Linked DNA regions of Homo sapiens. The protein of the gene in region 3 interacts with the protein of the main gene of each other region in a pairwise test. Each region holds a gene or a part of one and is shown on either strand. Other genes may lie near its edges. The genes, in order: METTL21A, NOXA1, ZNF620 and C22orf39.

Region 1 (3,191 bases), on a different chromosome or scaffold from region 3:
GATTACAGGCGCCTGACACCACGCCCGGCTAATTTTTGTATTTTTAGTAGAGATGGGGTTTCACCATGTTGGCCAGGCTGGTCTTGAACTCCTGACCTCAGGTGATCTGCCCGCCTCGGCCTCCCAAAGTGGTGGGATTACAGGCATGAGCCACCGCATCCGGCCAGATTTCAGGTGCTTTTAAAAAGTAACTGAAATTTTATTTTTACTTAATTCCTTTATTTATATATATATATATACCTGAAATTAAGGCAAAAAGCATGATATGAGACCCAAAAAAGCTCATATCCTACTCAACTAAAAGTGTTTAGGACCTAAACAGGGCAAAAGATTTAAATAGCACTAACAGCTCAAGGAATGTATAGGTTAAACCTTTTGTTTTACATCCAGAAAATTAGAAAACTCAGCTAAACATTGTATATATCACAAGGTTTTAAAAATAATTTGTAAGATTTAATCTTACCAAGAAAGCTTACTCATTTAAAGACTTCTTTATACCGGCCCTTCATATCATCAGTGGAAACTGTTTATTAAAAGGGAGGAGTATGGGATACACAAATAGCATAAATCGAAATCTCACACTTAATCCTTTAATGTTAATTGCATTTCAGACTGAGTAAAGTCTGACTAAAAATCACAGCAATGGGACAAAGCACTGCTTTGTTTTAAAACTGCACATGTGCTTTCTCCCCTGAGAACCTTTGGCTTAGACTTTTTGTACAGTAAGACATTTCATTAAATATGGTTAGATTTGCAGTCTAAGACCTTAAGTGACACACTCAATGACAACATTCTTATAAATTATAGCCAATTATAAGTCCTCCTTCTGGTTTCTCTTCTGTGCTTCGTAAATATGTACATCTTTTTCAGGATCGTAGTGAACCTTTCTCACAGTAAATTGCCTCTCCAGCATTGCTAAGAAGTTGTTATCCCGTTCATAGCGAATTCGGCATGCTAAAAGAATCACAGAGTGATTGCTACAGAGATGTTCCAGTGTCTGAAGAAGATCTGTGAATGTTTCTTCTAAATATATGATATCAGCACCAAGTATCAGGTCAAATTCTCCAGGAGAAAAACTCCCCAAATTTTGTCCCCAAGTCAGCTCCTTAACAACAGTTTTAGTTTGGATATGAGGAGGTAAGTTGGCTTGAACGTTTGATTTAAGAAATTCTAATGCTACTTTTCGATCCGTGATAGTCACATGAGCACCTACAATGTGGAACAAAGAAAAAGTGATGTGTACATCAGTACAATTCTGTTAGGTAGAGAGGGGGTCAAGTTAAATGTAGAGTGTCTCTTAAATATTGCATCTGATATGCATAATATCAATCACACCTTTCATGGACAGCTGCAATAGAAAAATGACTCACAGCTCCTTTTGCATTAACTACTGGTAGAAGTGACTCTTGATTTGCCTCTATGACATACCTGCTATTTGCTAAAATTGTGCCTATAAATTGCAGAATTGGCTGGGTGTGGTGGCTCATGCCTTTAATCCCAGCACTTTGGGAGGCCAAAGCGGGTGGATCACCTGAGGTCAGGAGTTGGAGACCAGCCTGGCCAACATGGCCAACTAAAAATACAAAATTAGCCAGGCATGGTGGCGGGCACCTGTAATCCCAGCTACTCGGGAGGCTGAGGCAGGGGAATCACTTAAACCTGGGAGGCAGAGGTTGCAGTGAGCTGAGATCTCGCCACTGCACTCCAGCCTGGGTGACAAGAGCAAAACTCCATCTCAAAAAAAAGTAGAATTAACCAGTGACACGGCTGATGCTTCTGAATTCTGCCAACAGAGCTGGCCCATACTTTATTCATTGGGTCATTATCTTTAAGTCAGTTGGCCGCAGGCTAAAATGGAATCCAAGAATGAAATATCTGGGAGCAGGCCAGGTACAGTGGCTCATGCCTGTAATCCCAGCACTTAGGGAGGCTGAGGTGGGAGAAGCCCTTGAGCCCAGGAGTTCAAGACCAGCCTGGGTAACACAGGGAGACTCCATCTCTACAAATAATTTTTTTTAATTAAGCACAGTGCACACCTGTGGTCTTAACTACTCAGGAGGCGGAGGTGGGATATCATGTGAGTATGGGAGATCGAGGCTGCAGTGAACTGTTATTGTGCCTGGGCAACAGAGCAACACCCAGTCTCAAAAAAAAAAAAAATATCTGGGAGCAGACTATTATTGCAAAGATGACAAGATACCAAAAACAGAGAAAGGCTGTTTTGTAAGGTTACAGTTTAAAAAAGAATCATGGAAGAAATAAATTGGCTACTAAGAAATCCCAGTCCACTTCTCCTTAGGCTGTTATGAAGCAGCCAACTTACATGTTTTACGTATTTCTTGAAAAATTGTAAGCTTAAAAATTACTTAATTTTATTAATGTAGGTTAAAATGCTTGTTCTTAATGCTAAGTTTCTACACACAGTGTAGAAAAACTAAACTGTTTCTTATGGGTTGTTGACAAAAAGATCCTTTTTTTTGAACCAATGTGGGTAAGAGAAGACCTTAAGGTGGAGCAAGCACATAAGGTCAGGTCGGATCCACCTCATCTACGTTGTAGGAAAGATATAATATGTGTAGTACTCTTTACTTCTGACCCCAGAAATTCTGAAATTTAAAATTATGTTTCAATCTTTCATAAAATTCTTTCCATTTGCATCCTTCTTCAGTTTGTAATCTTCATAGGTAATCTTCCCACAGGATTCCAGACTAGTTGCAATAAGCACTATTTCAGTGGCAGCTGATACTCAGTGTTTCTTATCTTGACACATAAGTTAGGGCAGTAATTCAATTTGACATTTACAGTCCTACTATGAGATACTGATGAAAATGCTCAAGTTGTTAGATTTTACAAGCCTGAACCTACCACTTTGACCATTCGTTGCTAGACAGTGTGTTGCCCAATGGATAGATTTCAATGACAGTTTTCATCTTTTCTGAAAATAAAAATTGCAGACAGCCAGGCCGAGTAGCTCAACCTGTAATCCAAGCACTTTGGGAGGTCGAGGCAGGAGCATCACTTGAGCCCAGAAGTTCAAGACCAGCCCTGACAACATAGAGAGATCCCATCTCCACAAAAAAATAAAAAAATTAGCCAGGCGTGGTGGCACTATTCAGGAGGCTGAGGTGGGAGGATCACTGGAGCCCAGGAGGTCAAGGCTGCACTTAAAAGAACAACTTTAGGCCAGGCGT
Region 2 (7,035 bases), on a different chromosome or scaffold from region 3:
CCTGGTCAGGGCCGTCTTCAGCCCGAGGGGTGTGGACAGAGACTGGGCAGGTGAGGGGGGCTTGCAAGCCTTGATTCTGAGGGATGGGGCTTGGCCTCAGCCTCCCTCAGGTGACTGACAGGTGAAGGGTCTAGAGCCTCTTACCCCAGCACCCGCGGGGTCCTCACAGGGGCCGGGGCCAGGCCCCCCCATTGCCGGCAGCCCTGTAGGACAGAGCAAGACTGACACAGCCACTACCACCAAAGTGGGCCCTGTGGGTGGAGGGCAGCCGGCACCCATGCACCAGCAGCTTCCTCCTTCACCCGGGGACCCCGCCGCTGAGGACGCCCATACCTGGGGAGAGAGGAGCCTGTTTGCCAACTTGCTCCACCTGGGGCCTCTGCAAGAGAAGCACAGGCTGGGTGGGCTGGGGCGGTCAGGTGCTGGAGGCCGGTACTGTCCTCGCAGAGCCCACACCAAGGGTGTGGCCTGTGTGCCCGGCCAGCACCCAGCAGGTGGTCTGTGGGTGTTGAATTCAGGGCACTGGCCACAAGTCGGCTGCCTTAGGATGGGGCTGGGTCCCTGCAGACCTAGAGGCTGCCTGTCACCAGGAGGGAGCGCCCCGTCCCCCAAGGCCCACCGAGGTGGCAGCTCCAGGTGGGTGGGCTCCCCAGTGACCCCAGGAAGCTGAGGACCCAGTCCCTGGGCCCCGGCCTCTGTGTGGGCTCGACATTAACCGTGTGCCCTGAGTTGGGCACTGAGCAGGAGACCAGTTCACCAGCTGCAAGTCACAAAGTCACAGCCCAGCGCTGGCTAGACCCTGAGGGTCAGGCATTGCTGTTGTTTTTTGAGAGGGAGTCTCGCTCTGTCGCCCAGGCTGGAGTGCAGTGGCGCCATCTTGGCTCACTATAAGCTCCGCCTCCTGGGTTCACGCCATTCTCCTGGCTCTGCCTCCTGAGTAGCTGGGACTACAGGTGCCCGCCGCCATGCCCAGCTAATTTTTTGTATTTTTTAGTAGAGACAGGGTTTCACCATGTTAGCCGGGATGGTCTCGATCTCCTGATCTTGTGATCCGCCTGCCTAGGCCTCCCAAAGTGCTGGGATTACAGGCGTGAGCCACTTCGCCTGGCTTTTTTTTTTTTTTTTTTTGAGACAGGGTCTTGCTGTCTTGCCCAGGCCGGAGTGGAGTGGCACTGTCATGGCTCACTGCAGCCTCCACCTCCCAGGCTCAAGCAATCCTTCCACCTCAGCCTCCCACGGTGCTGGGATTACAGACCACTGTGCCCGGCCTCGATTGTAACTTATTATTAGATTTATCAGATGGTTGAAGTTGCCTTAGGTTAGGAAGGACGAGAGCTTAAAGGCCCATCGTGGGAACTGGGCAAATAGTTCCAAACCCTGAGGGAATTAGTGAAGCACAGCTTGGAGGGCGCCCTTGCCCCCGGGATGCCACGGTTAAACTGGAAGTGGGCATCCATAAAGAGAGAGTGCCGGGGCTGCTTCCTGATCGCATCCTCAGATGCGCTCAGCGTGAAATGCAGGTGCCTTCTCTGGGCCTCCCGGATCCTGCAGCAGAGCCTCCGCCCACGGCTGCCACCCTGGGAGCAGCTGGGGTTCCTGCCTTCCTCCGCCTCTCCCCAGGTGCCGGGGTGTCCGGGAGGACTCGGGGGATGGAGTCGCTGCTGGGCCCCCATGGGGGGCGGGAGCCTTGGGGCCCCTCCAGAGCTGTCCTGCCTCCCGCCTGTCCCCAGCTGGGTCACTCCTGGTCACTCGCACCCCAGTGGGAGGGGAGGGGCAATGGCCAAACTGAGGTGGTCCTGGGGGCTGAGGGCCTGCAGGGCTACGTGGATGTCTCCACTGGACACCACCTCTCTCCTGTCCTGATGGCCAATGCCCACTCGCCTCGGGCACAGCCAGGCATCCTCCCATCTGGCTGGGCTGGGCCAGGACCACGGGTGAGCCCGGCCCCGTCTACCCCCCAGCGAGCTGCTCCCTCCACCCTCATGTTGGTCCCATTGTGGTCCCCAGTCTGCGGAGGCAGCAGAAGCACCGACCCCCAGCAGGGGAAGAGGCCCAGGCCCACGCACCTGCTCCTGGTAGGCAGTCGACGTGCAGCGGTCAGCACCGACCTCTGTCTCTGCATCGAGGGGGCCCTGGTGGGTGCCAGCTCTTGGGGAGTCCATGATTAGGGACCTAGGGAGAGGAGGGAGGCTCTCAGGCCCTGCCCATCTGACTGCCCTCCTGTGCCCGGCCCGCGTGGCCCCATGTGGAGGGCCTCTGCCCAGCAGGAAAGGCACGCGCTCGCAGGGCCCAGTCAGCCCCTCCTACCTGGCATCATGGTTCGCTCCTGGTCCCTGTGGACACAAAGCAACAACCTCGCTCTGGTTAAGGGTCGGGGGCCGCCCTCCCTCCTCCTGAACCTTGAAGAGTGGTTTCCCCAGGTCTTACACAGGGATGGGATGGCCACCCCACACCTCCCATCAGAGGAACTTCGCAGCCCCAGGAGGGCTCAGAGCTTGTGCAGCATTTTCTTTCCCAGAAAGCTGGGTGAGGCCAGGCAGGGGTCTGAGGGGCCGCAAACCCACCTGTGGCTGCTGAGGGCGGACGCCCCAGCCCTGGTCGTCGGGGATGGCAGAGGCCACCACCTGGCGGGGACAGTGGGGACGCTGGGTCAGGGATCAGCGGCCCAGCAGGGTCTGCTCCCTGCAGCCCGCCCCACCGTGCCCCGCAGCTCTAAGTCCCCGGGGGCTGGGTGACAGCTGCCCATGCCCGGCCCACGTCTGCCAGACCACCATGGAGGGAAATGTCTGATGGAGAAAAACATCTGCTGCAATGTTAACTTATTTTTAGCACAACTTTAAAAACATTTTGGTTTCTTATAAACAGCACTCTACTGTGATATGCGGACTCTAAGTTAATGCATTAACACAGCTCAGAGCCCGGCTTCGCCCACCCCAGGCCTCCCCTGCTGGGCAGCTGCACTGGGCCCAGGAGTCGGCCGTGGCGCAGCGCAGGTGACCGAGGGGGCGTGGCCAGCCAATGGGGCGTGGCCAGTCCGGGGCGTGGCCAGCCAAGGGTGACCCAGTCTTTGCCCACCAGGAGTTCTTCTTCTCCGCCATGTTTCGCCCGCTGCCTTTGGGGGTGAGCAGCTCCCCATTCCTGTGACTTTAGGGGTGTTGCCTGGCTCTGACCCAAGTGTGGGCGTGACGTGGCCCAGACCGTCGGACTGCAGCCCCTGCCCCCGTGAGACCTTGCTATCTGTGGCAGGGACACAGGGACCCCCCCAGGGACCTCGCTATCTGTGGCAGGGACACAGGGAGACCCCCCGGGACCTCGCTATCTGTGGCAGGGACACAGGCACCCCCGCCCCCCGGGACCTCGCTAGCTGTGGCAGAGACACAGGCACCCCCCCCGGGACCTCGCTACCTGTGGCAGGGACACAGGCACCCCCCTGGGACCTCGCTGTCTGTGGCAGGGACACAGGCACCCCCCCGGGGACCTCGCTATCTGTGGCAGGCACACAGGCATCCCCCCAGGACCTCGCTATCTGTGGCAGGGACGCAGGGACCCCCCCCCCCCGGGACCTCGCTATCTGTGGCAGGGACGCAGGGACCCCCCCGGGACCTCGCTATCTGTGGCAGGGACGCAGGGACCCCCCCGGGACCTCGCTGTCTGTGGCAGGGACACAGGGAGACACAAAGGCATGAAAGGACGCAGAGAGACGCAGGGACTCTGGGAGGCTGCAAGGCTGTGGCTGTGGCCATGGCCCAGTCTGGGGGCGGGGTGGCACCTGCAGGGTCCTTGTTGAGAGAGCTGGAGCCCCCTCCTATGCAGCCGGCTCTAGTGGGCTCTGCCTTCAAGCTCACAGCCCCATTTGGGGCACCGCCCCCCTACCGTGGGCGCCAGTTTGAGGATGGCTGTGGGCCCACTCTCTACCCTCCTGGCCCTTACGGTGGCCTGGACTGCACCTCCCCCCATCCCTGGGAACACAGTTCGAGGGCTCAGCACCAGCCGCCATGCCCCAGGACGCCGTCCCCACCTTTACCTTGGCCTTGCCCAGGAAATCCACGGGCTCCAAGTGCTTCAGGTGCCACCGGTGGGGCCGGAAGACCTCGCCCCTGGGGACCTGCCGTGGCGGCAGTGAGCCCCGTCTCTGGAGGGGGTGGGTATCCAGCAGATGCAGACGGGGTGACCAACCAGGCCTGCAGCCGCAGAGCCCCTGTGCCTTGGAGCAGAAGGGGCCGCTTGGGCCCCCCACCCCCTTCCCGCAGGTCACAGGAAGCCCCCGCCTGGCACCCGAAACTGGGCACTAGGGCCATCTCCCTCCGGAAGCTTCTTCATCTCATGAAATTGGTCTTGAGGAGCTTTGGTAGGCACCAGCCCAAAACCATGACCGGGCTGGCACTCCTCACCTGCACTTGGTCCAGGGCTGAGTCCAGGCCATTCAGGGACCCCTCCGGCCACTTGGACATGGCCTCCCTTAGGCTGCTGGCCGCCTCTGTCCAGAGCCCCAGCTGGCACTGTGCCGACGCCACATTGTGTAGCACCTGGGAGTGGGGCCAAGGTGATGGCAGGGGCCTGATGCCCCACCCAGGCCCTCTCCCGGTTCCCCCACCCAGCTCCTCCCTCGGTCTGCCCACCCAGCCCCTCCCCCAGTCCCCCCACCTGGCCCCTCCCCCATCCCCCCACCCAGCCTCTCCCCCAGTCCCCCCACCTGGCTTCTCCCCCGTCTCCCCACCCAGCTCCTCTCCCAATCCCCCCACCCGGCCCCTCCCCTGCACCGTTCTGTGTCCTGGGCTGGCGGGCCCCCACCTGGCTTTAACCCTGACTCCAGACCCACACCAGTGGGCTTTCCCTTCCATCTTTTTGTCCTAAAAGACAATGCTATTCCCAGAAGGCTTCAGGGCGATGCATTTCCGGGGTCTGGTGGGGGGGCCTCTCAGCACCCCTCCTTCGGTGCCAACACGTTCCAGGCAGCCAGGAAAGGGCTGGGGGCACAGTGGAGGGTGGGCACAACCCCCTGCCTGCTCCCTGCCCACCCAGCAGCCTTTCGCCTCTGCCCTCCTTCTGGGTGGAGCCACCCCTGGTGGCCTGAAATGGCACAAAATGGTCCCTCCACCTCCACTGCCACCAGAACCTCCTGCGGGTCAAGGAGTGGCCAGGGTATTCCATGGCACCAAGAGCTTCGGCCAGAGGCGCTCCCCAGTCCACAGGGCCCTCCTGTGACAGTGCCACCGCCCGTGGACACCCCACAGCCAGCAGCACAGTGAGCCCTGCCCGGCCTCACCTCCCAGGCTTGCAGCTTGAACCGCAGGCCCAGCTGCGTGTAGTCGATGGCAGCGTGGCCCCTCAGCTGCTCCAGGGCCAGCCAGAAGTCAGACAGAGCCTCCTGGAACCTGTGGGCAGCCGGGGTCCCCTCAGCAGCACAGGGCGGAGATGGGGCTGTGGTTAGGCAGCTTTCACACCAGCCCCGCTCGAGCCGCCCCCAACACCTGGTTCCAAGGAGACCTGAGGGAGGGCAGTGCGGTGCCTAGGTCTGCACACTCAGGTCTGGTGGGCCAGGGGTCCATGCACATGTGTGCTGAGTGGGTGTGGGGGTCACTGTGTGCTGGGGCTCCACCATTTTCCCAGCTCAGACTCAGCTTCCTGGGCCCCTGCCCGCCCCCAAGCCTCTCTTCTGAACCGTGCAGAGAGCCCTGGTTATTTCCCTCCTGCTTCTCAGGCCCCCCACCCCATGGGGGCTCCCCCTCCAAACTCTGAGCCTCCTTCCAAGCCTTGCTGGGAGCTCCCCAGCGCCTGCCGGAGAGGCCTCTCCTCCAGGCGGGCTTCCCGCGCCGATGTGAAGGAGAGGCTGCCCCAGAGGGGTCTGGATCGTAATCCAGAAAGGGACAGTCCCACAGCCATAATCCCGAATGCTGGGACTCTTCAGTAAAGGAAGAGATGGCTTTTTCGTTCATCTGCCTTTCTGAAAGGTAAAATATCTCCAGATCCGGGCTCTCTGGGCGACTGCGTATGTGGTGGTCCCTGAAGCCTTTGATGGATCTTGTTAGAAGGTGGGTTGTTCATCTTGGTGTTTTGATGACCAGTTATAAAGCCAGGTGCACACAGTCACCAGCCAGAGTCTACGCACCTACGTCTTACCCCTTCTGACCTAGCTCCTCATGAGCACTGTTCATCTGCTCGTAGTTCTCACACCCGTGAGCCTGTCGCTAGCGTGCATGAATTTGTGCTTGAAAAAATATGTATGTTATTTTTGTCTATTTTATCGGCCAATGAAGGGTTCCGTCGTGTTTTTATGTTTCTCAAATAAATCCCTTTAAAATATGTAAATAGGCTGGGCGAGGTGGCTCATTCCTGTAATCCCAGCACTTTGGGAGGCCGAGGCGGGTGGATCACCTGAGGTCAGGAGTTCGAGACCAGCCTGGCCAACATGGTGATGCCCAGTCTCTACTAAAAATACAAAAATTAGCCAGGCGTGGTGGCACATGCCTGTAATCCCAGCTACCCGGGAGGCTAAGGCAGGAGAATCGCTTGAACCCAGGAGGCGGAGGTTGCAGTGAGCCGAGATCGCACAATTGCACTCCAGCCTGGATGACAGAGCAAGGCTCCTTCTCAAAACAATTTTTAAAAAGTAAATAAATATCTTTTACAGAATTTTATTTTTTCTAGAATTATATTTTTTGGGATTTTAGATTTGAGGGGTTTTGATATTTCAGGATTGCGAGGCTCTCGGGACTGTGATCCACTTCCCCACAGAGCCTGCCCTCCTGGGATGGGGCCTGTGAGTGTCTAGCAGAGAGGCCGAGGCATGGCCTGGTCTGCAGTCCCGATGGTCTCCTTTCCCTCATTCCTCCTTTAGGAAGGGACATGGTGCAGAGAGCCCAGGTAAGCAGTGAGGACCCCACGACCTGTGTCCAAGGGTGGCGCTCAGCAGAGGCGAGGGCCACAGTCTCAGGTTTCCCTGGAGCCAGGAACCATGGAGGAGGGGGTGGGCAAGAGGAGGGAGTGGATGGAGAGGGAGGAGGAGGAGGTGCAGGAGTGGACTCTGCAGGGAGA
Region 3 (7,117 bases):
GGCAGGAGAATCACTTGATCCCAAAGGTGGAGGTTGCAGTGAGCCAAGATCGCACCACTGCACTCCACCCTGGGTGACAGAGCAAGACTCTGTCTCAAAAAGAAAAAAAAAGGCACTTGTTCAAGAGTAGGGCTGTCCACAGTTAGACCCTGCTAAGGAATGACTGTTCGTTATCTCACCTCCTAATTACAGGGAAAGAGTGTGGTCTGGCCCCACTCAGATCATATATTCATTCTTGATTAATTCAACTATGGGTGGGGGAGCAGAATTACACAGTATTTACACAGCTATCTGGGACTCACTGCTGTTGGTGAGGAGGGCAGTTAAAGGGGCTGTTGTATGCTGATAGATACTCTACAAAGACCGTACCATGTTGAGCATATACTTCCTAGACTAAGTTCATTTCCCTCAACACTCCATGCCAGAGGCTCTTAACCCAACTGCCCATTAGAACCACTTGGGATGTTGTGTTTTTGTTTTTGTTTTTTAATACCAATGCCTAGGCTGAATCCTAGACCAATTATTTCAGAATCTCTGGGAGCAGGTCCCAGGTATCAGTATTTTTTTTTTAATTCCCTAGGTAATTATAAGGTGATGCTACAAAGAACCACTTTTTTTTTTTTTTTTTTTTTTTTTTTGAGATGGAGTCTTGCTCTGTCACCCAGGCTGGAGTGCAGTGGCGCGATCTTGGCTCACTGCAACCTCCACCTCCCAGGTTCAAGCAATTCTCCTGCCTTACCCTCCTGAGTAGCTGGGATCACAGGCATGTGCCACCATGCCCAGCTAAATTTTTTTTGTATTTTTAGTAGAGACAGGGTTTCACCATATTGGCTAGGCTGGTCTCAAACTCCTGACCTCAGGTGATCTGCCTGCCTCAGCCTCCCAGAGTGCTGGGATTACAGGTGTTAGCCACCGCGCCCAGCCAAATAACCACTTCTGTAGACCTTTGCTACTCAAATTGTCACCTGAAGACCAGCAGCATTGGCATCACCTGGGAGATTTATCAGAACTACAAGCTCACTGAATCAAACTCTACTCTTTGACAATGCTACCAGGTGACTTCGTGGACACACTAAGGTTTGAGAAGCATTACTCCAGACCCTGCTCCATGTGTGTGTCTTGGCATCTAATATTGCCAAGAAGAAGTCTGAGGCAGCCTGATTTTGCTTCCTTTTCAGTCTGGAAATTTGCAGAACTTTAAATCTTAAATTTTCGTAATTTCACTAGGATATGTCTTGTTGCTGGTTTTTCCCCATTAAAATTTCCTAGAATTTAGAGAGCATTTTCAGCCTGCAGATTCTCCTCCCTGATGAATGGCTTTTTCCTTCAAGTTTGTCCTATCAGGATTAGAACTAGGGTTAGATTTAAGGACACAACCCATTTTAAGATTATGTTGTCTTTCTAGTATGTATATATTTTTTAAATTGAGGTATCACTGACATACAATAAGCCATGCATAAAGTGTATGATTTGATAAGTTTTGCCATATGTATATGTCTCTCAAAAAATAACACAATCAAGATAACAAACATAATCATACCCCAAAAAGTTTCCTTATGCCCTTTTATAATCTCTCCATTCCAGCCTGCTCCTCTCCTGCCTCCAGCCCCAAGAAACCACCAATCTGTTTTCTTTTACTATAGTTTTCCTTTTCTAGAATTTTATATAAATGCTATCACACAGTATGTACTCTTTTTAAAGTTATTATTTTTTTTGGTGTGATGTCTTTCACAACACAGAATTATTTTGAGATTCACCCATGTTGTTGCATATATATCAGTAGTTCATTCCTTGTTATTACTGAGTAGTATTCCACTGTATGGATATGCCACAACTTAACTCAAATGATGGCCATTTGAATTGTTTCCAGTTTTTGGCTATTATAAATTAAGCTGTTATGAAAATTTGTATGCAAGTCTTTGTAATGTAAGGACATATGTTTTCATTTCTCTTGGGTAAATAACAAGAGTGAAATGGCTAGATAATAAGGTAGGTGTATATTTAATTTTTAAAGAATCTGCAAAGTTTTTCCAAAGAGACTGTGCCATTGTACATTTCCATCAGTATTGTATGGGTTCCACTTCTGATACATCTTTGCCTACACTTGATGTTGTCTCTACTTTTAGCTTTTCTAGTAAGTGTGTAATACTGTTTCACTGCGGTTTTAATTTGCATTTCTCTAATGACTAACAATGTTGAGCATCTTTTCAAATATTTAATTGCTTTCCATATATCTTCTTTGGTGAAGTATCTGTTCAAATCTTTTGCCTATTTTTAAAAATTGGTTTATTTTCTTATGAGTGAGTTTTGAGAGTCCTTTATATATTTTGGAAACAAGTCTTTTATCAAATATTTTTGGTATTTTCTCCCAGTCTGTGGCTTGTCTTTTCATTCTCTAAAAGTATCTTCTGAAAAGCAGAAGATTTAACTTTGATTAAGTCCAATTTATCATGTTTTTTTCCACTGGCTAATACTGTTTAGAATTTGTGGTGTATATGTATGTACGTTTATGTGCACCCACTCATGGTAAATGTTCATTTTAATAGGTTTAGCGAAGGGACAGTATGCACATGTATGTCCTTGTCATGCCATTGTTTCTGGAAATCTAATTATTTAAAACAAGTGCTGTGCATAAACTTTAAAGTGAAAATACTATAGATTTTATAAAATGAACTGTTTCTGTGACAGTTAAAATCTCTGTGCTAGGTGGCCCCACAATGGCTCCCAATGGTTCTCATATCCTGGCATTCAAACCTTGTGTATCTCTTCCCACACTGAATCATGACTAATCTGAGGAGAATGTATTGAGGAAATCATGATGCATGATTTCCAAAACTAGGTCATAAAAGCTTTGGCCTTGGCCTCTTGGATTGCTCACTTTGGGAGAAAGCTACATGCCATGTTGTGAAAACCCTCACATGGGAAGGAACTGACGCTTCCTGCCAACAACCAGCACCCACTTGACAGCCATGTGAGTAAACCACCTTGGAGGTGGATCCTCCAAACTCAGTCAAGCTTCAGATGACTTCAGCCCCACATGACACCTGACTGCAACCTCAGCAGAGACCCTCAGCCAGTACCACCCAGCCAAGCTGCTCTTGAATTCTGGGTCCACAGAAACTGTCAAAAGATAACAATGTTTATTGTTTTTAGCCACAAAGCATTAGAGTAGTTTATTATCCAGCAGTAGATACATAATATACTCTCCATGGCAGGACTTGTTTTGAAAGTGGTGGATAAATCTAATTCCTGTGGAAGGAATAACTAAAATCTGTTTCCAGGCTGGGCCGGGACACACATCCCAGTACAGGGCAGGAAAGGGCTCTAAGCCAAATGTTAATAGCTCTTTCGCTAAACTTCGAAAATTGTCCTTAAAAAAATCTATTTCCCTAAAGCACGCCACATATTGGAGTCCCAGCAGCACCTATTTTGTGTCTTCAAAAAACACAATTGGAAAACAAAACAATACAAACTCACGAGTACATACTATGTGCCAGGCACAACTGTAAATAATTTACCTATCAATTAACTAATTTAATGAATTAACCCTGAACAGCCTCAAGAGGTTGGTACCACCATCATAATACCCATTTAATAGACAAGGAAACCGGGGCAAAGAAACTTGCTGCAGGTCACACAACTAGCAAGTGGTGCAGCTGGGTTTCTGGACCTACGTAGTCCATACACATTCGGCCTTCTGAGTAATGGGTTCGCCTTTCCCCACACCCACTTTTCCCACTGCAGCGCACCCACACAATCCAGACAGTTTTGGCGCATGTGAAGGGCGCGATGGTCCCTTCATTATCTGGAAGGACACCCAGAGTGGCAAATGCCAGATAACCACGAATAATACCCAGGATAGTAACCATTCTGTGGCCTGAGCTGGCCAGACGTCATGCCCCGAAGGAGCTACCAGGTGTGGGCGCTGCAGGACCCCTGCCTGGGGCCGCCCGCTCGGGCCCGTGTTGTCTCAGGCAGTAGGGACACTGGCGCTGACGGCGGGGGTAGGAAACCACAGAGACTGGCAACTTCCCAGGTTCCTAGAGAGGAGGGGCATGGAAAACGCACTTCCGGCGGAGGGTCTCAAGCTTTCCCCGGTGTCGGCGGCAGGTGGAATTTCCACGCTTTATCTGCGCCTGCGCCGCGCGGGATTCGCGGTCCGAGCTGAAGAGGTTCGCGGTCCGGGTAACTGATTGGTTTTCCTGGGGCTTGTTCTGCCTGGTTTTGCAACCCCTTTGCTTTTTGGGGTGAGGAGTTGGCGGAAAGGAGAGGGGCCCAAGTAGCACAGAGGGCATTTGCGGGGTGCGAGGCAGCATCAATCTCACCGGTGCTTCTTTATTTTCTCTTCAGTTTCACTTCTCCGAACCCTGAGGCAGTGTGTGAAGCTGGGACGCCAGCCATGTTCCAGACCGCTTGGCGCCAGGTGAGTGAGCATCCTCTCCCTCCCTCCCACCCTTTAGATGTCAAGAGAGAGCAGGTGTCACCTCTGCATTCAGATCTTGAGTTGTGTAGGCCAGTGGCTTCCATTGTGCATCTGTCACTATGAGAGGGATGGAGAGGTGAGAATGCCCAAATTAAGACTAGAAAACTAGTGAGTGTGGGGGGATTGGTTGGGATTTGGCATTTGAAGCCAGCTTAAAAATAAAAATTATGAAATGTGGAAATCTGCATTATTACATCCAATAAAGACCCCTTTCACCCTAGTCCGCAGGCTTGGAGAAGTACTTACTTCTTCAGTATAGCAATTCTAGTAACTGTTTTGTAGATTCCATTGTATTTTCTACATAGGTCATCTATGAGTAAAGATAGTTTTACTCCTTTCTTTCCAGTCTGGATGCCTTTTATTTTATTTTGTCTTGCCTTACTGCACTGGCTAGAAGCATTATTTCAATATTGAACAGAAGTGGTGAGAGCAGATATCTTTGTCTTATTTATGCTTTTAAAGTGAAAGCATTCAATCTTTCACACTGAAGACTGATGTTCACTGTAGGTTTCTTGCTTTTTTGTTTTGTTTTGTTTTGTAAATGTCCTTTATCAGGCATTCTCTTCTAGTACTACTTTGGTGAGAGTTTTTATAGGAATGGATGTTGGATTTTGACAATTGCTTTTTCTGTGTCTATTTAGATGACCATATGGTTTTTTTTTTTTTTTTTTTTTGAGATGGAGTCTTGCTCTATCGACAGGCTGGAGTGCAGTGGCGCGATCCTGGTTCACTGCACCCTCCACCTCTGGGGTTCAAGCGATTCTCCTGCCTCAGCCTCCCGAGTAGCTGGGACTACAAGCACGCGCCACCACACCCAGCTAATTTTTGTATTTTTAGTAGAGACCAGGTTTCACCATGTTGGCCAGGATGGTCTCGATCCCTTGACCTCGTGATTCCCCCACCTTGGCTTCCCAAAGTGCTGGGATTACAGGCGTGAGCCACCGTGCCCAGCCTCTCTTTGTTAATGTGGTGAATTACATGATTTTTCTTTCAAATATTAAACCAACTCTGCGGTGGGATAAAACCGACTTCGTCATGGTGTATTATTATTTTATTAGTACTATATATTGAATTTAATTTGTTAAAATTTTATTTAGAATTTCTGTATCTATGTTTATGAGGTATTGATTTGCAGTTTTCTTTTCTTGTGATGTCTTTGTTCCATAGAATGAGAAATATTCCCTCCTCTTTAATATTTTGGAAGAATTTATGTAGAGTTGACTGCATTTCTTCCTTAAATGTTTGGTAGAATTCAACAGTGAAGCTATCTAGGCATGGGGTTTTCTTTCTGATAAGGTTTTTAAGTACAGTTTTGAGTCCTTTGGTAGATACAGGGGCTACTCTGGTTATCTCTTTTTATTTATTTATTTTTATTTTTTGACAACGGTTTTCTCTATGTTGCCCAGGCTGACCTCAAATTGGGCTCAAGCAATCCTCCCCGCTCAGCCTCCCAGGTACCTGGGACTACAGGCATGCATCACTACGCCCAGCTTAAATGAGTTTTGGTAACTTGTGCCTTTCAAGGAACTTATCCATTTTATCTAAGTTGTAGAAATTATTCACATAAAGTTGTTCATAATATGTGCTTATCTTTTATTACCTGCAGTGATGTCACTTCTTTTATTACTAATATTAATGATTTGTGTATTCTCTCTTTTTTTCTGGTCACTGGCTAGAGGTTTATGAATTTTATTAATTTTTCTTTAAGAACTAGCTTCTGGTTTCATTACTTTTCTGTTTTATGTCATTAGTTTTCACTTTGATCTTTAATGTCTTTTTTATATTTATTTTGTGTTAAATTTGCTATTCTTTTTTTAGTTTTAAGGGGGAAGCTGAAGTCACAGATTTGAGATCTTTCTTTTTTTTTTGTTTTGTAAAATAGGCATTTAGTGCTATACATTTCCTCCCAAGTACCGCTTTAGCATTATCCCGCAAATTCTAGTACATGGTGTTTTCATTTTCATTCAGTTCAAAATACTTTGTACATTCTCTTATGGAAGTGTGTTACTGACTTTACAAATATTTGGGGATTTTCCAGGAGTCTTTCTGTGATATCAAATTTAATTGCATTACAGTCAGAAAACATACTTTGTATGACTTGAATCATTTTGATTTTATTGAGCTTTCTTTTATGGCCCAGAATATGGACTGTCTACCTATCTACATTGTCTTATATGAATTTAGCCACTGCAGCTTTTTTTTTTTTCTTTTTTCCTTAGAGACAATCTTACTCTGTCTCCCAGGCTGAGTGCAGTGGTGCAATCACAGCTCACTGCAGCCTCCACCTCCCAGGCCTAAGTGATCCTCCCAAGGAGTTGAGACTAAGTTGAGACTACAGGTACAGACCACTGTGCTTGGCTCTCTTCTTTTTCCTAGAGACAAGGTTGCCTAGGCTCTTCTCAAACTCCTAGATGCAAGCCATCCTCCCGCCTCCACCTCCCAAAGTGCTGGGATTACAGGCATGAGCCACCATGCCTGGCCTTACAGTTTTCTTTGGCTAATGTTGTCATGGTATGTCTTTTTCTATTCTTTTGCTTTTAATTTATCCCTGTCTTTATATTTAACGTACATTTCTTGAAGGTTCTTCAAGCAATGTACTATCTTAAGCAGATAGTAGGTTCTTATTTGCTTAAA
Region 4 (7,329 bases), on a different chromosome or scaffold from region 3:
GGCTCTGGTTGACCTCGTGAGTCTGGGGCATATTCACCTGCTGAGAGTGAGCCTGGGGGTGCTGGGTGGAGAGGAGAGAAGAGTCTGAGAGAGCAGCTGTGGGGAGCTGCAGGGAGGAGTGTGTTAGGGAGAAGGGAGGAAGACGGGGAAGAAATACATGTCCTGGGTATCCTGGAAGGGTGGGAAGAGTCCAGAGGACAGACCACCCGCCTGAGTGGTGCCACAAGTGCCACTTAACCCATCAGCTTCTCTTGGCTACTGTCTCCCAATACAGACACAAGTCAGTGTATCACAACATGGGTGACCTTTGCTGTCAGCCCTTGGTAGGTATCAGGTGCTATGTGAGCCTCTTTACACAGATAACTTAATCTGTCTACATGTCTGTCTTTGTTCAAGCTCTATTGCCTCAAATAAAATATTTTGATCGTGTTTAAAAAGCTATCAGAAATGTAGTACAGAATATTAAAGATTCCCAAATGTCCATTCCCAATGCGGCAGTTAACAGCTTCCCTGATATCTTTTTTTGGTCCACATTTTAGAGCTAACATGTTTCCCTAAAGATAGGATAATCTTTTGCTGGCTAGTCTACTTCCTGCTTTCTTTTCACTAAACAATACACTGTAGGCACTTTTCCATACCCAGGGAGATGACCGACCATTCTTTTCAAAGGCTATCTGGTATTTCACTTTGTGGAAAAAGCTATTTGGTCAAATGTCTATTAGTGAAATTTAGGTTGTTTTCAGCTTTTGCAGTATCAAAAACATAATTAGCATTCTAACTTTTAACTGTACACTGTTATCCAATTACTTCCCTGGGATAAAGTTCCAGAAGTAAAACTTAAGGTCAAAAGGTATGTATCTGACATTTACATAATCAGAACACCTGACACCCCCACCAACACTGCACAACTACCCAGAATTCTTCAAACCTCTATCAACACCACTTTCTGCTGTTACTGTCATTTAGACTTATATACCTGACACCTGGCCATTTGATTTTTTCTTTTTTTTTCTTGAGAGGGAGTCTTACTCTGTTGCCCAGGCTGGAGTGCAGTGACACGATCTCGGCTCATTGCAACCTCCGCCTCCCAGGTTCAAACAATTCTCCTATCTCAGCCTCCCGAGTAGCTGAGATTACAGGTGTTTGCCACCATGCGTGGCTAATTTTCGTATTTTTAGTAGAGATGGGGTTTCGCCATGTTGCCAGGCTGGTCTCAAACTCCTGACCTCAGGTGATCTGCCCACCTCGGCCTCCCAAAGTGCTAGGATTACAGGCATGAGCCACCATGCCCAGGCTTTTCTCCTTTTTTATTATTTTTATAAAGATGGAGTCTCACCATGTTGCCCATGGCTGGTCTCAAGCTCCTGGGCTCAAGCGATCCCCTTGCCTCGGCCTCCCAAAGTGCCGAGATTACAGGTGCCCACCACCATGCCCAGCTGGCTTTCTTTTTTAATGAATTGCTTCTTTGTGTCCTTTGGCCATTTTTCCATTCTGAAATAATCCCTATATTTCTTATTGATATATATATAACAGCTCTTTATACACACACACGCACATATATATACATTAAAGTTATCAATCTCTTGCTATATAAGCTGTCAGCTTTCTTACTTTTTTTGACTTTCACATATTATGGAATAGTCATCATTTTCTTTTATACAGCAGTCTGGTTTCCACATCAGTTCATCTCTTTCAGATCACTGTATACACTTAATAATGTTGAAGTGTTGATCAGTCCCATTGATTCTCATTCCTTGGCACTCCCCATGAGCCTCGCACCTTTCGGCTGGCTTCTCTCCATCTCCTCTCCCACAAGGGGTCCACCGTAGCACTGTATTCTACACTACAGTGTGGGTGCCAGGAGGGCAGAGACTCTTCTTATCACTCGTGCATCCCCAAGAGCACCCAATGTGGTACATATTTGCTGGACGAAAAAACAACTAGAACCACCTCCTTACCGGTCTCTCTGCTCCTGTAATATATTCTCTACACCCTAGCAAACAGATTGAACTTCTTTTACCCTCTCTCTTTTTTTTCCCCCCTGAGACAGGTCTCCCTCTGTTATCCAGGCTGGTGTGCAGTGGTGTGACCATAGCTCACTGCAGCTTTGAACTCCTGGGCTTAGGCGATCCTCCCGCCTCACCCTCCCAAGTAGCTGGGACCACAGGTGCACGCCACCACACTTTGCTAACAGACTGATCTTTTAAAGATATAAATCGAATTATGCCTCCCAGCACACTTTAGACTAAACTCTAAACTCCGTATCAAAAGGCCCGCCAGGTCCCTGGTATACCGCTCTCCAACCATCCACCTACCCTCTGCTTCAGGAACCCAGGCCTTATCTGTTTCTCAGCGGTGTCTACCGGGGCTGGATGAAGGCTGGCTCCTGGTCACTCAGGACTCAGCAACATCACCTCCTGCGTAGGCCAGCTGATGACCCTAACACCGGACGGCTGCCCTCTTCCCTCTCTAAACCACTCTACACCCCCTCCTCGCTGGTCTCCTCCTTTGTCTTTCACGCCCTCTGAAAGTCCTGTTGATATGCTAATTTACACAATCTCTCAAAAGAAAGGAAGCGTGAGGAGGATAGGGACCCCGTCAGTCCCCGGCTAGGTCGCGGGGCATGGGGCGTGGAGGGGTGGGGAAAGCTGGGCCCCGCAAGGCGCTCCGAAGCGCCGCCCCGCTCCCTCCCGGCGCACCTGGGCCTCGGCGTTCCGGCGCTCCTCCCAGTCGCGGCAGCTGGCCAGGTCGCGCTGCCACTGTTCGCAGGCCGGCCGCTCGCCGTGGACGTAGTAGTGGTGTAGGAAGTGCCTGGCGCTGCGGCAGAGCTTCCACTCGGCGCGGTAGGCCTCGCAGGGGCGCGGCGGCTGCGGCGAGAGGCGGCGCCTGAGCGGGGCCCGGCGGCCGCGCCCTACGCCCCGAGCCAGTCCCGTTCCCTCCCTCCGGAAGACCCCGGTGGTTCCCGGCTCCGACCCAGCACACTCACCTGCCAGCCGCTGCCGTCCGCCATGTCTGGGCGACCGGCGCGCCAAGCCCGCCCCTCAGTCCGCCAGCCAATGAAAAATGAAGAAAACGGCACCTCGTGATCGACTGACAGAAGAACTAATGAGCACCGACACATTCAATCACGTCTTCGCCCCCTTCTTCGAGAAGCGCCGACAAACAGGACGAGCAACCAATAGCAACCGAGGGCGGCTGCGGCGCGCGCGGAGGGCCGGGGTCGCAGGGTAAATCCGGGGCGAGACCTGGCGCGAAGCCTACGCGACCACCGCGACGACAGCGCCATTCACCCCGGGCCAGGCGGGCATCCTGGGCCGCGCAGCTACCTTACGTCAGCCGCCTCTCAAATCACACGGCTCTGGCCAGTTCTTTTCAGCAGCTTTATGAGATTTTCTCAAATCTCAACAATCCGGTATATTTTCAAAAGTACATACTGAGCATCAAGGTGGTGCAGCGAACCTCCCAGATCTGCAGCTCCAGCAGTCTTGCTTGAGCGTCCACTCAGGATGGAGGTGAACTCGCAAAGTAACTGAGATTGGTTGGGCATGACATATGGTGGATCTAGGGTTGAATGACCTCCCCAGGGAACGCAGGCTTGAAGTGGAGGCTGAGAATGCAATCCGAGTACAGCCATAGGCCGGTCAAAGGTATGGAGGCGGTGTGTAGCAGGGGTGAGCGGGGTAGGAGTGGCTTGGATGTCTGTAGTTCTATTCTAAGGGTGCGGGAGACATGTAACATTTACCTTATTCATTTTTCGAGACAGGGTCTTGCTGTGTCACCCAGGCTTAGTGCAGTGGCGTGGCGTGTTCATGGCTTACTGCAACCTCAAACTCCTGGACTCCGAACAGCTGGGACCAAAAGCATGCACAGCCTCACCAGGCTAATTTTTAATTTTTTTTTTTTTTTTTTGTAAAGATGGGGTCTTGCTAAGTTACCCAGGCTAGTTTGGCCTCAAGCGACCCTCTCACTTTGGCCTCCCAAAGTGCTAGGATTATAGGCGGAGCGCCAGTGCCTGGCTGGGACGTTTATAAAAAGGAGCAATGCACAAGAGGCAACAAAGGCAAGTAAAGAGGAGGCTGGTGGGCTTGCAGAAACGCCCTGCAGTACCTATGCTGCGGTTCTCCCACTTCACTGATAACAAATCCTCAGTATCCACTGATACAAATCCTGGGACTGCTGGGCCAGTCCCAGGAATGACACTGGGACAGACTCCCTGGAGGTGGATCAGAAAGCTGCAGTTTTACCAGGGGTCCTGCTGTTGAGGCAGCCGGCTCAAGGACCAAGCCCAAATAAGACACTGAGAGGAAGGCTGCAGGCCAGGGTGCAGGAGTAATGACCAGGATCAGTGCTCCAACTGGCCCCACTGTGTCATTAAAAGGCTCTGCAATGGAATCCATCCTGGTCCAGGCAGGGGAGTGTGCCTCCAGCAAAGGACCAGGCGTTTCACTGCATACACAGCAGGTGTTGCTTAGTGAAGACAAAAACCCAGAGCCAGAGGTACTGTAACATTCTTCATTATGCATAAAGTGACAGTCTGTTAGCTGATGTGATCCTGCAAATGAAGGCTGTCTACCCACCAAGGGTTTCTCCCTCTGCTAGTAAAACTGAGACTTTGTCAGTGGAGGCTCAGGTAAGTCCCCACAGTGCTCATGCCTTCCAAAACCACGCCCATTTCCAGTGATGATGGTTTGTGCCACAGGCCAAGTACTGAACATCATGACACTCATAGACACTCTTCACTGAAGACGTGGATAGACCCTGGGGCCACCATTCTCTCCTCTCTGGAGTGTTGGAGGGGCCCTGACCAGGGCAGGACCCCCATGTCTGGAAGCAGGGTTAGCCCTGGCTCATGGGGGACCCTGCTGGGCTTAGCCATTGCCACCTAGGGATCAGGCAGCCTTGTTTCTTCCTACTTTCTCCAGGAGAAGCCCCAGAGGGACACTTTTCTAATGGTGAGATGGAACACGGAGCACCTGCCAACAGGCCTTCAGTTATGGTCAGAGGCCCAACCACCAGTCTGTGTTAGTACCTAATCAAACATTTAGATTTAGGCTTTAGTTATTGCCTGTTTTTACTTGAAATTCTTGGCTTAGAATTATTCCCAATGGGGCCAGGCACAGTGGCTCATGGGAACAAATTTAAAATAATCAGATTAGCATGTCAAAAGATCTCACGTTATAGAAAGTGAAGATCTAAGACCAAATAAATACTGATAAAAAATACAGGCCAGCAGAAGCTTGGATGATTTAATAAATTAAAATTGGGAGTTGGGGAGTAGGGAAGAAGGAGAGGAACATCTCTTTAGCATTTGTTCATTCTAACATTCACATGTTTGCTTCTCCATGGAGTTGTTTCACTATGAACAGGTTCACTAAGGAGCCAGTTATGTCCATATGAAATGAGAATAAAAGTGCAAACTCATTCAGATCAGGTTCTTCTGAGTGGTGTTTTTGAAAAAAATATGTAAAATAAAAATAGAAACATTCTTTGTCAAATACTTAAATTGCAGCCACAGTAGTGGGACAGCCACTACTTATAGAACACATGTCTATTTAAAGCCTTTTTTTAGGCCAAAGACTGACACCTATGCAATTGATGTAGGAAAAGAAAGGATAAATGAAGAAAAAGAAAGAACACTTCATGTTAGACAATTTAGTCACCTTCATAGGTTTTGACAGAATTAGGGATGCAGAATTGCTCCTGCTGAGGCAGTGGGAGCTCCCCTCAAGCTGAAAGCGTGAAGAGGTGAGGAGGCAGCTATCTACAGGCCCTCAGGGACAGCTCTTTGTCTTTCCCCAAATCAAGCATACAACTACAAAGTCCTGCTGCTCCACTTCCAAGTCAAACTTAATAATTCTTAGGTAACTCTAAATAAATCTTAAGTAACAGAGTATTCTCTGATGAGGCTCGTCCCTGTCAGTGCCAGTAACTAAAAGCCAAGATGTTGCAAATGATTCTTTTATTATTTTCCAATCAGCCAACAGTCCTCACTTAGGGCTTTCTTCCCTTTTTACGCAATGACTGTCCTTCTCCAGAGAAAGCGACGAATCTGCCTCCAGCTTCATCCTAGGTTTGAAGAGAAGATACTATTTTCAGAAACTCCCTGGAGGTTTACAATAAATGCCTTACTCTATGGACTCACGTACCATCCACATTACTCATAAGAAATATCTCAGGCTGGACACGATAGCTGACACCTGTAATCCCAGCACTTTAGGAGGCCTAGGTGGGAGGATCACTTGAGCCCAGGAGTTCAAGACCAGCCTGGGCAACATAGTGAGATCCCATCTCTACCAAAAATAGCTCAGTGTGGTATGTGCCTATGATCCCAGCTACTTGGGAGGCTGAGACGGGAGGATGGTTTGAGCCAGGGCCATAGTGAGCTATGATTGTGCCACTGCTCCAGCCTGGATGGCAGAGCAACAGAGCAAGACCCTGCCTCAAAAAAAAAAAAAAAAAAAAAAGTCTGTAAGTTCATCACCCAAAAACATTTCAGGTCACTTTTCTGTACATGCTTAAAGAATTGTTTTCCCACTTAATTCTGAAATCTCATGCCAATAAACTTCCTGTCTAGTATACTCCCAAGGCTACAGAACTGAATTCTGTAAAAAAGAATTCCATGATGTAGGAGGGCCAGTTTTCTACCAGTGGACATTGTTGTGGTAAGCAGCTTAATGTATTTGCACACAACTCTGATTTTTTTTAGAGCTCAAATTCCTGGGTCAAAGTGTGTACACACTTTTAATGCTTTTAACATATAGAGACCAACCAGCCCTCAGAAACATTCCACTAAGCTATCCTTCCATCAGCAGAAAGAGGGATTGTTTTTTCCCAAACCTTTGAAAACTGCACATATTTTTTTTCACATGCTTTTATTGCTAGTCAGTCTGAGGCATTATCTCAACTTTTCCCTAGGAAGAAGAGGATTCTGGAATGTTCAACACACATCCCTGCACCTGGCTCCCCACTAACTGTAGCATGTTATACCTGCAATAGAGCACTGTTTAGTATTTATGTGGTCACATTCATGTAAATTTGAGTCACAGCTGCATTTAGTCTTCCTTTGCCGCACAGCCTTCCATTCATCCTGGTGTCAATAGCTGTGTTTGGCTTCTTCCTCTATTCAATCACAGCCTGCATTGCATGGAGTTCATCTGTTTTGACAAACCTGTGTCTCCTGGGCCTTCGCCCTGCCGTACCTGGACTGGCCTTTCTCTAGGTGCCGTACATGTTAGTGGGGGCTCCTTATTTCCTGGATTCTATGACTTTCTTATTTCTACCTTATTCCTTCATTTTAGTGAGGAACACCTCCTAGGAGCTTCCTGAGAA

Evidence for each region.
Region 1: the proteins of ZNF620 (region 3) and METTL21A interact in binary tests that used the Homo sapiens proteins (3 or more experiments, as listed by UniProt).
Region 2: the proteins of ZNF620 (region 3) and NOXA1 interact in binary tests that used the Homo sapiens proteins (3 or more experiments, as listed by UniProt).
Region 4: the proteins of ZNF620 (region 3) and C22orf39 interact in binary tests that used the Homo sapiens proteins (3 or more experiments, as listed by UniProt).

What each region holds. Positions count from the first base shown.
Region 1 is NC_000002.12:207,612,235-207,615,425, forward strand, and holds the end of METTL21A (protein N-lysine methyltransferase METTL21A), read right to left. Parts: intron 1,210-3,191; coding exon 812-1,209; 3' UTR 505-811; downstream 1-504. UniProt on the Homo sapiens protein: Protein-lysine methyltransferase that selectively trimethylates residues in heat shock protein 70 (HSP70) family members. Contributes to the in vivo trimethylation of Lys residues in HSPA1 and HSPA8.
Region 2 is NC_000009.12:137,426,373-137,433,407, reverse strand, and holds part of NOXA1 (NADPH oxidase activator 1), read right to left. Parts: exon of another isoform or gene 5,376-7,035; coding exon 5,267-5,375; intron 4,968-5,266; exon of another isoform or gene 4,792-4,967; intron 4,527-4,791; coding exon 4,392-4,526; intron 4,133-4,391; coding exon 4,025-4,132; intron 2,787-4,024; coding exon of another isoform or gene 2,658-2,786; exon of another isoform or gene 2,633-2,657; intron 2,625-2,632; coding exon 2,565-2,624; intron 2,334-2,564; coding exon 2,308-2,333; intron 2,173-2,307; coding exon 2,067-2,172; intron 380-2,066; coding exon 334-379; intron 204-333; coding exon 145-203; intron 1-144.
Region 3 is NC_000003.12:40,501,954-40,509,070, forward strand, and holds the start of ZNF620 (zinc finger protein 620), read left to right. Parts: upstream 1-4,085; 5' UTR 4,086-4,185; exon of another isoform or gene 4,186-4,247; intron 4,248-4,350; 5' UTR 4,351-4,399; coding exon 4,400-4,423; intron 4,424-6,787; exon of another isoform or gene 6,788-6,821; intron 6,822-6,859; coding exon of another isoform or gene 6,860-6,994; intron 6,995-7,117. UniProt on the Homo sapiens protein: May be involved in transcriptional regulation.
Region 4 is NC_000022.11:19,444,679-19,452,007, forward strand, and holds the start of C22orf39 (synaptic plasticity regulator PANTS), read right to left. Parts: upstream 3,034-7,329; 5' UTR 3,011-3,033; coding exon 2,987-3,010; exon of another isoform or gene 2,868-2,986; coding exon 2,700-2,867; intron 1-2,699. Other genes in the region: UFD1 (ubiquitin recognition factor in ER-associated degradation protein 1), read right to left, coding at 5,992-6,066. UniProt on the Homo sapiens protein: Negatively regulates long-term potentiation and modulates adult synaptic plasticity. Stabilizes the interaction of RTN4 isoform A/Nogo-A with its receptors, inhibiting clustering of postsynaptic AMPA receptors at synaptic sites.